Linked DNA regions of Homo sapiens: region 2 is linked to region 1. Evidence: fine-mapped expression QTL. A gene starts in region 1. The other region holds a variant in brackets. All regions are shown on one strand. Distances are from middle to middle.

The links. PIP is the estimated chance that this variant, and not a neighbour inherited with it, causes the effect. A credible set is the group of variants that fine-mapping cannot tell apart.
Region 2: its variant is the best candidate, but not a certain one, in a credible set for the expression of XRN2 in fibroblasts (GTEx, PIP 0.60).

The regions. Positions count from the first base shown.
Region 1 is chr20:21,301,056-21,305,451 of GRCh38, reverse strand. XRN2 (5'-3' exoribonuclease 2) reads right to left here and starts at 2,121. Exons shown (of 30, transcript NM_012255.5): 1 at 1,979-2,121. The coding sequence starts at 2,053. RefSeq lists an enhancer at 1,524-1,573 and a silencer at 2,294-2,423.
Region 2 is chr20:21,431,263-21,435,658 of GRCh38, reverse strand. The region is part of intron 2 of LOC105372558 (a long non-coding RNA gene); the gene reads right to left. Among named protein-coding and RNA genes, the nearest start is that of NKX2-4, 36 kb to the right of the region's middle. RefSeq lists an enhancer at 1,974-2,268. The variant A/G (reference allele first, on the strand shown) is at 2,260.

The DNA.
Region 1 (4,396 bases):
AAAACTCCGTCTCTACTAAAAAAAAATCAGCTGGGCGTGGCGGCGCACACCTGTAGTCCTAGCTGCTCTGGACGCTGTGGCAGAAGAATGGCTTGAACCCAGGAGGCCAGAGGTTGTAGTGAGCCGAGATCATGCCACCGTACTCCAGCCTAAGAGACATAGCGAGACTCCGTCTCTAAATAAATAAACAAATGAAGTAAGATGATGATCCAGAAAACAGTACCTCCCACTGAAGAAAGATATGATAGCAATAATAATAATAAAATCCCAGATGCAGCTTTCCAGCAAGCCTACAGAATAGCCAGGTGTGACAGCAACAAAAATAAATAAGACCCCAAGAAGGACTATTCAAGAAGAAAGATGACTCTTGATAGACTACCTGGTAAAATAGAGTCCGGGCGCGGCAAGATGTAAAGTGGAAAAAGAAAGACAGCCCCAGGGAAAAAGACAAAAGCAGCACAAAAAACAAAATCACAGTACATAACCTGAATCTACACAGTGTCAATAGTCAACTATCCTATCTGATTTTTCAGCATTTTAAATCTGTATAGTCAAAGCCCTGATCATTTAATTTTGGATGCCCACAACGCAAAAGTACAGCTGACAAACTTGAGGTGAAAGGGAAGAAAAGCTAAGATCGACCTTAGAAAGCATTGAGTCAAGGGATACGTTACACAGGCGATGGAATGAAAAAGGCAAATTACTTAGTTATAAAGCTTACCAATAAAAATATATATCTAGTGATTTACTCCATTAAGAGTATAGAGGGAGGGCTGAATAGGTGACTAAATCCTCTCCTATTCCAGCTAGAATTCAACAGATCTAAAAGTGATAACGTATAAGTATGATACTTAGAGACAGAACCAAAACAGTTAAAGGTGGAGAAATGGGATGAGAAGGGGTAGAGCAAGAACTGTTGCTTTTTGTTTAACCCACGTGCAAGTAAAGTTCAATAAAGTTCGATTAAAATTTTACAAAGGAAACAAGTATTCAATTTAGCAGTTGCTTTTTGAAAAAAACAAGAAATAGTGGGAATGTCACTAAGACAAGGCTTTTGGTTCCTCCTTGGATAGAAGCCAAGAAAGTTAAAAAAAAAAAAAAAAGCAGAAATAAGTTCACAGTGACAGGCAAGCACTGCCTTCAAAAACTAAGGAGTGAGGTACGCGTGATGTGCCTCTGAACGTTTCCAATCCAGAAATTCTAATTAAGAGCACAAAATCGAATCCGCATGGAATGACGAAAACAATAAAAACAAAACTCAATAATGGCCAAAAATCTACTTACGTATTAACTAACAACAAAAATTGTACTGCTCAAGTACATCCAGTAATCTTGAAATTTTCAACAAGCACCCACCCCGTTCAGTAGTCAGGGCACACAGAGAAGGGTAACTTCTCAGAATTCTATAGCGCTCATCCTGGACCTGACATACTGCTTTCAGCGTCCAATCTAACCAGAACAACAAATGGTCCTGAACACTAGGAGAAAACCTTTCCGGCACAATTGGTAAACAACGAAAAGGTCGCCGCCAGGGATTCCTTTACAAGGTTGTCAAAAAGCTGGCCTCCGAATCCGTGCATCCATAACCCGCTAGCTCAGCTGACCTGGCATGCATTGCTCAACAACAGCCTCTGAACCTCTTCCGAGACCCAAAATGCGCGGTCTGGAGAGGAAACAAAGCAGTGGGCGGGGCCTTCCGGTGCCGGGAAAAAGCGAGTAGGGGAGGAGCGACCCTCCTGCGAGTTCGGAACCCTATAGGCCCTTGCCCCGCCGAGGGTCCTGAATTCCTCGCCCCCGGGGTGCTGAATCCCACAGCCCGCGTCCCATCGCGTGTGGGGCTGCGACTGCTCGCGAGGCTGGCAGCAGGGCGCGAGCTCCGGCAAGGCTCCCCGGGGGCAGGCGGCGGAGCCCATGGGCCGCGGCCTAGACGTGCCGGGGGCCCGGGCTCGAGTGTGGCGGCCGCCTGGCGCCTCCTCACCTTCTCTTCCACGCAGTTGACTATGATGGACGGGTACTTGCGGCTGAGCCAGCGGAAGAACGCCGGGACTCCCATAGCGGCACACGGCTGGAGGCGGCGGCCGACCGGCTGACGAGCGTAACCAAAGAGACGGGAGCAGCGGCAGAGGGCACCAGCACTTCCTCCCACGTGCGCGCTGGAGAACGGAAGTGACGTCACGGCGCCGCCGCCGGGGAAGCTGGGAAGGAGGCTTCGCTGGATGAGGGAGCGGCGGAAAAGGGCCTTGCCGGGCTGTTTGTGGGAGGCGGAGTCCGGCGGCGGACCGGGTGGCGAAGGCTGCAGCTCGCCCTCGGTGGTCCCAGCCCCGGAGCGCGAGGCCGAGCGCGTCTGAGTTGCGGGGGCTCACGGGCGACTGCTCTGCCGGGGCTCCGCCGGGATCTCCCAGCCCCAGCCCTCCGGCTCCCTGGGCACAGAATCGCTGCGCTCTGCATGCCCGGGAGGAGGTCTCCCTTGCCCGTTTGGTCACCTCTTGTTTGGAAGAAAATGTCTTTTTTTGCCTCTATGCTCACCCGTCTCAATCTAGGGTAGAATCGAAGCATCCAAACTTACTCGTTACTTCCATTTCCTGGTTTCTCCTAGTTTTGTGCTGCAGTACGTACCTGGACTATCAAAAGGAGCATTTTAAAGCATTTTACAGTAATAATGGCTGCTTTGCACCAATAATTTGATTGTTATGCAAATAAATAATTATGATAGTTACCGAATGGAATCTAGCCGGTATTTAGCATCCAATACAATCTTCCAGCTACAATTACGGGTATAAAATAGTTGCTAATATGATTTTCCAGCATTTACTGAGCCTTTACAGTGTACCAAGACATTGACTAAGGGATTGTCCTATGTAATCTTCACTTGAACCTTGTGAGGGTACTGTTAGCACCCTCGTGTAAATGATAAGAAAGCCAAGTTACAGAGGAGTTAAGTCACTTATGCACATAGCTTCTGTTTCAGTTCAAGCAAAGGTCATTTTTAATCCATCCTTGTTCTAACACGATACTTTTATCTTTTGTTTTCTGGTGGTCCCAAACGAATTTTTTCCATATGAAAGGAGAGGTCTGGAAGAGGAGGTATATTTGTCCGTTTGCTCAAGCCTGGAAGTCTCCCTGAATCCCCTCTTGGTTTGACACACATCACACACGATGCTAAATGCTCACCTCATGAGGCCTCTGTGAAAGTATTTCGCCGAGTTACCTCACAGGCAGTATTTATTGCCCCCTCCTCTGTGGTCTGATGACTACTTTGTTTAAACTACTAGTGTGGAAATTAGAGAAATAGTCATCCCGTGTTTTACTTAAGGATAGCCAAAACTATTCCAAAGTATTATGTCTATGGTGAAATTCCTCCTTTTACCTGGAAGCAGCCCCTCTGGTTTCCCTGGGAGGTGCTGTTATAGGAACATGTACACCATAGGCAGTTCAGGGATAGACAGCTGGCCAAGTTGAGCCATTTAGAATCCTTAACCAGCATTTTGGCGGGTTGGGAGGGTTTATTGTTTTGTTTTTGTTTTTTCAGACGGAGTCTCAGTCATCCAGGCTGGAGTGCAGTGGCAAGATCCAGGCTCACTGCAACCTCCACCTCCCGGGTTCAAGCGATTCTCCTGCCTCAGCCTCCCGAGTAGCTGGGATTAGAGGCGCCTGCCATGACACCCCGCTGATTTTTGTGTTTTTAGTTGAGACAGGGTTTCACCATGTTGGCCAGGCTGGTCTCGAACTCCTAACCTCAGGTGATCTGCCCACCTCGGCCTTCCAGAGTGCTGGGATTACAGGTGTGAGCCACTGCACCCAGCCTTACCAGCATTTTTGAGCTTTGAACCATAAGAAATTTAAGACTGCATCTTTCCAGTGCGTGAACGCTAAAAGATAAGAATTGGGACTTGTTGCCAGTAGGCAATGAGAGAAGCAGGGTTAATTCCCTGGTTCCAGTTAAATCCCTCTCTTCCTGCAGTTTGATTAAGTCTGTCCTTTGATTCTGTGAGCCAAATTTTTTTTTTTTTTTTTTTTTAAGACAGAGTCTCACTCTGTTGCCAGGCTGGAGTGCAGTGGCACCATCTCGGTTCACTGCAACCTCCACCTCCCAGGTTCAAGCGATTCTCCTGCCTCAGCCTCCCAAGTAGCCGGGACTACCAATGTGCGCCACCACGCCCGGCTAATTTTTGTATTTTTAGTAGAGATGGGGTTTTACCATGTTGGCCAGGATGGTCTCAATCTCTTGACCTTGTGATCCGCCCGCCTTGGCCTCCCAAAGTGCTGGGATTCCAGGTGTGAGCCACCACTCCCAGCCAAAAGTTTCCTTTTGCCCTAAGCTGGCTTGGGCTAAATTCTTATCCCTTACAAAGGAAAGAGTCCAGTAACAAAATTTGGGGAGTGCAAGCTAATTCAC
Region 2 (4,396 bases), 130 kb before region 1:
AAACAAATTTTGAAAGGGTGTCCATTGTGTTTCTCAGAGTGGCTACAATAGTAATTAACATATTGCTTAGCCAGGACTCTTTCCCTTTATACAGAAAAATCTAGCCTGACTTGTTAGTGGCTTACAGATGATAAAGTTGGTATAGATTTGACTAAGGCTGGAAATAAAAGGTTTGCTCAACTTAATAACAATAACAAGAGAATCACAGGTTCTACCTCTCATTTACTAATGATACACTTGAGGAAATTGTGTAAACCTCTGTGTAGACACACCAATGTCATCAAACTGGGCTCTAGGTTCTACCTAGTTTCTGCGATGTTCATAAGATTCCAGACCTGCCAAAAGGTGACTTCAGATTACCCTTCTACCATTCACATGGGAAGTCATTCTACCATTATCATCCTCATAACAAGACAGATCTTCCACATGTAAAAGATTTTTAAAAATCATTGGAACAATAAAGACATTTAAATATTTTTATAATATTTGATCAGGAAAAGAATAAAAAACCAAAAGCCACAAAGGAAACTCCAACAGATTTAGTTGCATAAAAATTTTAAGGTCCATGTATTAAAAGACATTGAATCAAAATTAAAAAACAAACACCAAACTGGGGGAAATATCTGTAATGTATACACAAAACAAAGAGTTAATATTTTTACCGTATAAAGAACTCTTACAAAGCAACACAGAAAAGATGAACACCACAGTAGAAAAAAGATACGAACAGACAATTCACAGAAAAAATCCAAATGACTATTAAGTATATTAAATGATGCTCAGTCCCATGAATGATTACAGAAATGCAAACTGAAACAATAAAATACCATGTTTCCACTGGTATGGGTATGGTTTTAGATGAAAAAGAAGGCTAAAGTTCATTGCTAGCAAGTGTGTGGGGGAAAAGGTGACCCTTATATACAGCTGGTGAGAGCATAAATGGTGCTACTTTTCTTTTCTTTTGAGATGAAGTCTCGCTCTGTTGCCCAGGCTGGAGTGCAGTGGTGCCATCTCGGCTCACTCCAAGCTCCGCGTCCCGGGTTCACGCCATTCTCCTGCCTCAGCCTCCTGAGTAGCTGGGACTACAGGCGCCCGCCACCATGCCCAGCTTATTTTTTGTATTTTTTTTAGTAGAGACGGGGTTTCACCGTATTAGACAGGATGGTCTCAATCTCCTGACCTCATGATCCGCCCGCCTCAGCCTCCCAAAGTGCTGGGATTACAGGTGTGAGCCACCGCACCCAGCCAAATGGTGCTACTTTTCTAAAGGGTAGAGTGTATCAAAATGAAAGTTCTATCAATTCCACGTCTAAGAAAATCATTGTTCAGGTGTACAAAGCTGTATATACACTGACGTCCATGGGACCGTTGTTCACAACATCTGAAAATTGTAGCAACAGGAACAACAGTCAATAAGGACCTGGTGAAGTAAACCATGCTAGAATTATACGATGGAATTTCATGCAGCTGAGAACATGAAAAATGCCATCAATATAGGAGTACATAAACAGAGAAGACTACAGTATGTAGTATCACCCCATGTATGTAAAAAAGGGAAATGTATGAAGGAGTCTAAAAGACTACATACCACATTTTTAAATGGCTGCCTCCGGCAGTTGTGTCTTGGGAAACAGGGCAAGGGCAGGCATGACTAAATGCCCTGGAATCATTTGCACAGGTGTCCCCCTATAAGACTGAGATCTGGAAAGCCAGACGGAGTGATGGAGACTGCAGGTGAAAGCAGCCTCTCCTCTGACCCCAGCTGGCTTCTGCTTGAAGGGAAAGGAAGAGAACTAAGGGGAGAGATGTTATCCAATTACAGGAGTCCCTATAAATAAGGTACCATAAGCACAATGAGGGTGGGTGGCTTAATGGGAGGCTTAGAATACATTTCATTTAGCGCCACTCAGCTAGTTATTCCTGGCTGTAATGCCCTCAAGAAAAGGGAGCTAAGAAGGTCTGTTATAACACTGGGGTAGAGTGGGGAGGAGGAGTGTTGCAAAGTGCTGAGGAACTCTGTAAACCCCCAAGCCTGGCATAATGAGTTGTGCTCTGACATCGGCAAAGGGGTGATAAGGAGGACTACTCACTTTATCAGGGAGAGAGGGAAATGACATCAAGAAAAGAGCAATAACTTGCCTTTTGTGAGTCATCCAAGAGTGTTGGGACAGAGTAACTTCAGAGTCACACTCCACAAGCAGTCAATCAGAAGACAGGCCCAGGGCTTTAGCAAACAGGTAACACCACAGTGTAGTGAAG[A/G]CAACCTGGTGCAACCCTCAGAAGGTGCAGAAATGTTCCTATCTGTAAGCCCAGCTCCAGCTTTTTGGAATCTGGTGCTGAGCCATGTGCATGGTACAAAGTGGGAAGGAGCTTCAGTCTGTGAAGAGTGCCAGGGCAGAGATGAAAGTTTCCAAAGCCGAAGAAAGCCGCCGAATGGTACTTTGAGAATGACAGCTACTGGTGAATAGAACAGATGAGATCAGGGTTCTCAGGATGGATCAAGGTGAAAAACTTCCCCTCTCATTCCTCTCCCCCAACAGCCATGGCTATGCCCAGGAGTGACTAATTCAGAATTCCAGATCCTGGAGATAAAGGGAGGAGCACAGTTTTTAGTGGTTGGTGCTCTATCTCTACTCCCGACACCACCACTGCCAATAGAGACAAAATCTACCTACAACTAAGTATGGACTTGGAAAGAAAGAGTATCTTAGATTTAAATCATCTGGTGGACTACAGCTCTTGTCAAAGGAACCAAGGAAGTCTTGCTTTGGATGTAGGCAAGGAAAAAGTCAGGGTACCCCCAATCTTGATGCGCAATTCAAACTCAGGGCAGGCAAGATGAAGTTAGACAAAAACAAAGACACTTTTACTAGGAGGTCAGAGAAAGAACCATCTCTGCTTTCTCAGTAATGTTTTATTCTTGAATATTTTAAATATTCAAACGGATTTTCTGGAAGCCAGAAAGTAATTATAGGACCAGAGACAACCCATGACAAGGATGGCATAAATGGTTTCATTGTGACATCTGAAATATTTTCACATGACAGGCTTAAACATGTTAACATTTTCATTTCATTATACTGGCAACATAATTAGTTTCAGGATATAAGTACTGAAGGTGTTGATCCAAATGTAATCTCTGTATTTTAGCTCTGAGATATAAATGTCAATGAGTTACAGTTGTCTGAGGCATTTAAAAAAGTCAAAAATATAGGGAGAAATAGCTTTGCTTTGTACTTTTTTGGCATGTCACAGCTCAAGTAAGTGGTGAAATAGTGATGACAGTAAGTGTGAGGTCTTAACCACACTAATCAATTTAAAACTTGTGAGGTTTATAGATATACCCATCAATGAAATAAAAGAGAGAGTTCAGAAATTTTTGGTGTACACATATGTCAATTGATTTTCAGCAAAGACAAAAAGGCAGTTCAACAAATGGCGCCCAAATAATTGGACATTCATTTGCAAAAGAAGGAAGGAGAGAAAAAAGAAACTAGGTCAACACTTCTTCACACTTTTCACAAAAATCGACTCAAAATGGGTCACAGACCTAAGAATAAAATCTAAAACTTTAAAACACTTAGAAAAAGAGTGAATTTGAGGGGTTAATGAAAATATTCTTTATTTTGACTATGGTGGTGGTTACATGACCCTACGCAGTTCAACATTTATTGAACTGAATATTTTTCAAAGGTGAATTTTAATGTATACAAATTATACATTAATTTAAAATTTTTCAATGGCCAGGTACAGTGGCTCACACCTGTAATCCCAACACTTTGGGAGGCCAAGGTAGGTGGATCACTTGAGGTTAGGAGCTCAAGACCAGCCTGGCCAACATGGTGAAACTCCATCTCTACTAAAAATACAAAAATTAGATGGGTGTGGTGGCACACGCCTGTAATCCCAGCTACTTGGGAGGCAGGAGAATTGCTTGAACCTAGGAGGCAGAAGTTGCAGCAAGCCGAGATAATGCCACTGCACTACAGCCTAGGCAACAGAGTGAGACTCCATCTCAAAAATAAATAAAATAAAATAAAATATTTCAAAATTGTAACTGTTAAAAAAAGGGATCAATTTATATAAAACCAATCAACTCTGCCACTAGCCATCAAATGTGACCTGGGCAAAACTTAAGTTTCAGGGCTCAGTTCTTCAATTAATATACTGAAGTTAATATAAGTAGTATCTGGAACATAGAAATATATTCACAAATGTATCTTGGATTGATTAGAATAAGGAAAACACTGAATTATACACAATTTAGAAAATATGAATTACATAAAATTCAGAAATATTATTACCTCAAAATGCTATTTCTTAGCCCTTGAAAACAACTTTTAAAAGAGTTGGTGGCCGGGTGCAGTGGCTCACGCCTGTAATCCCAGCACTTTGG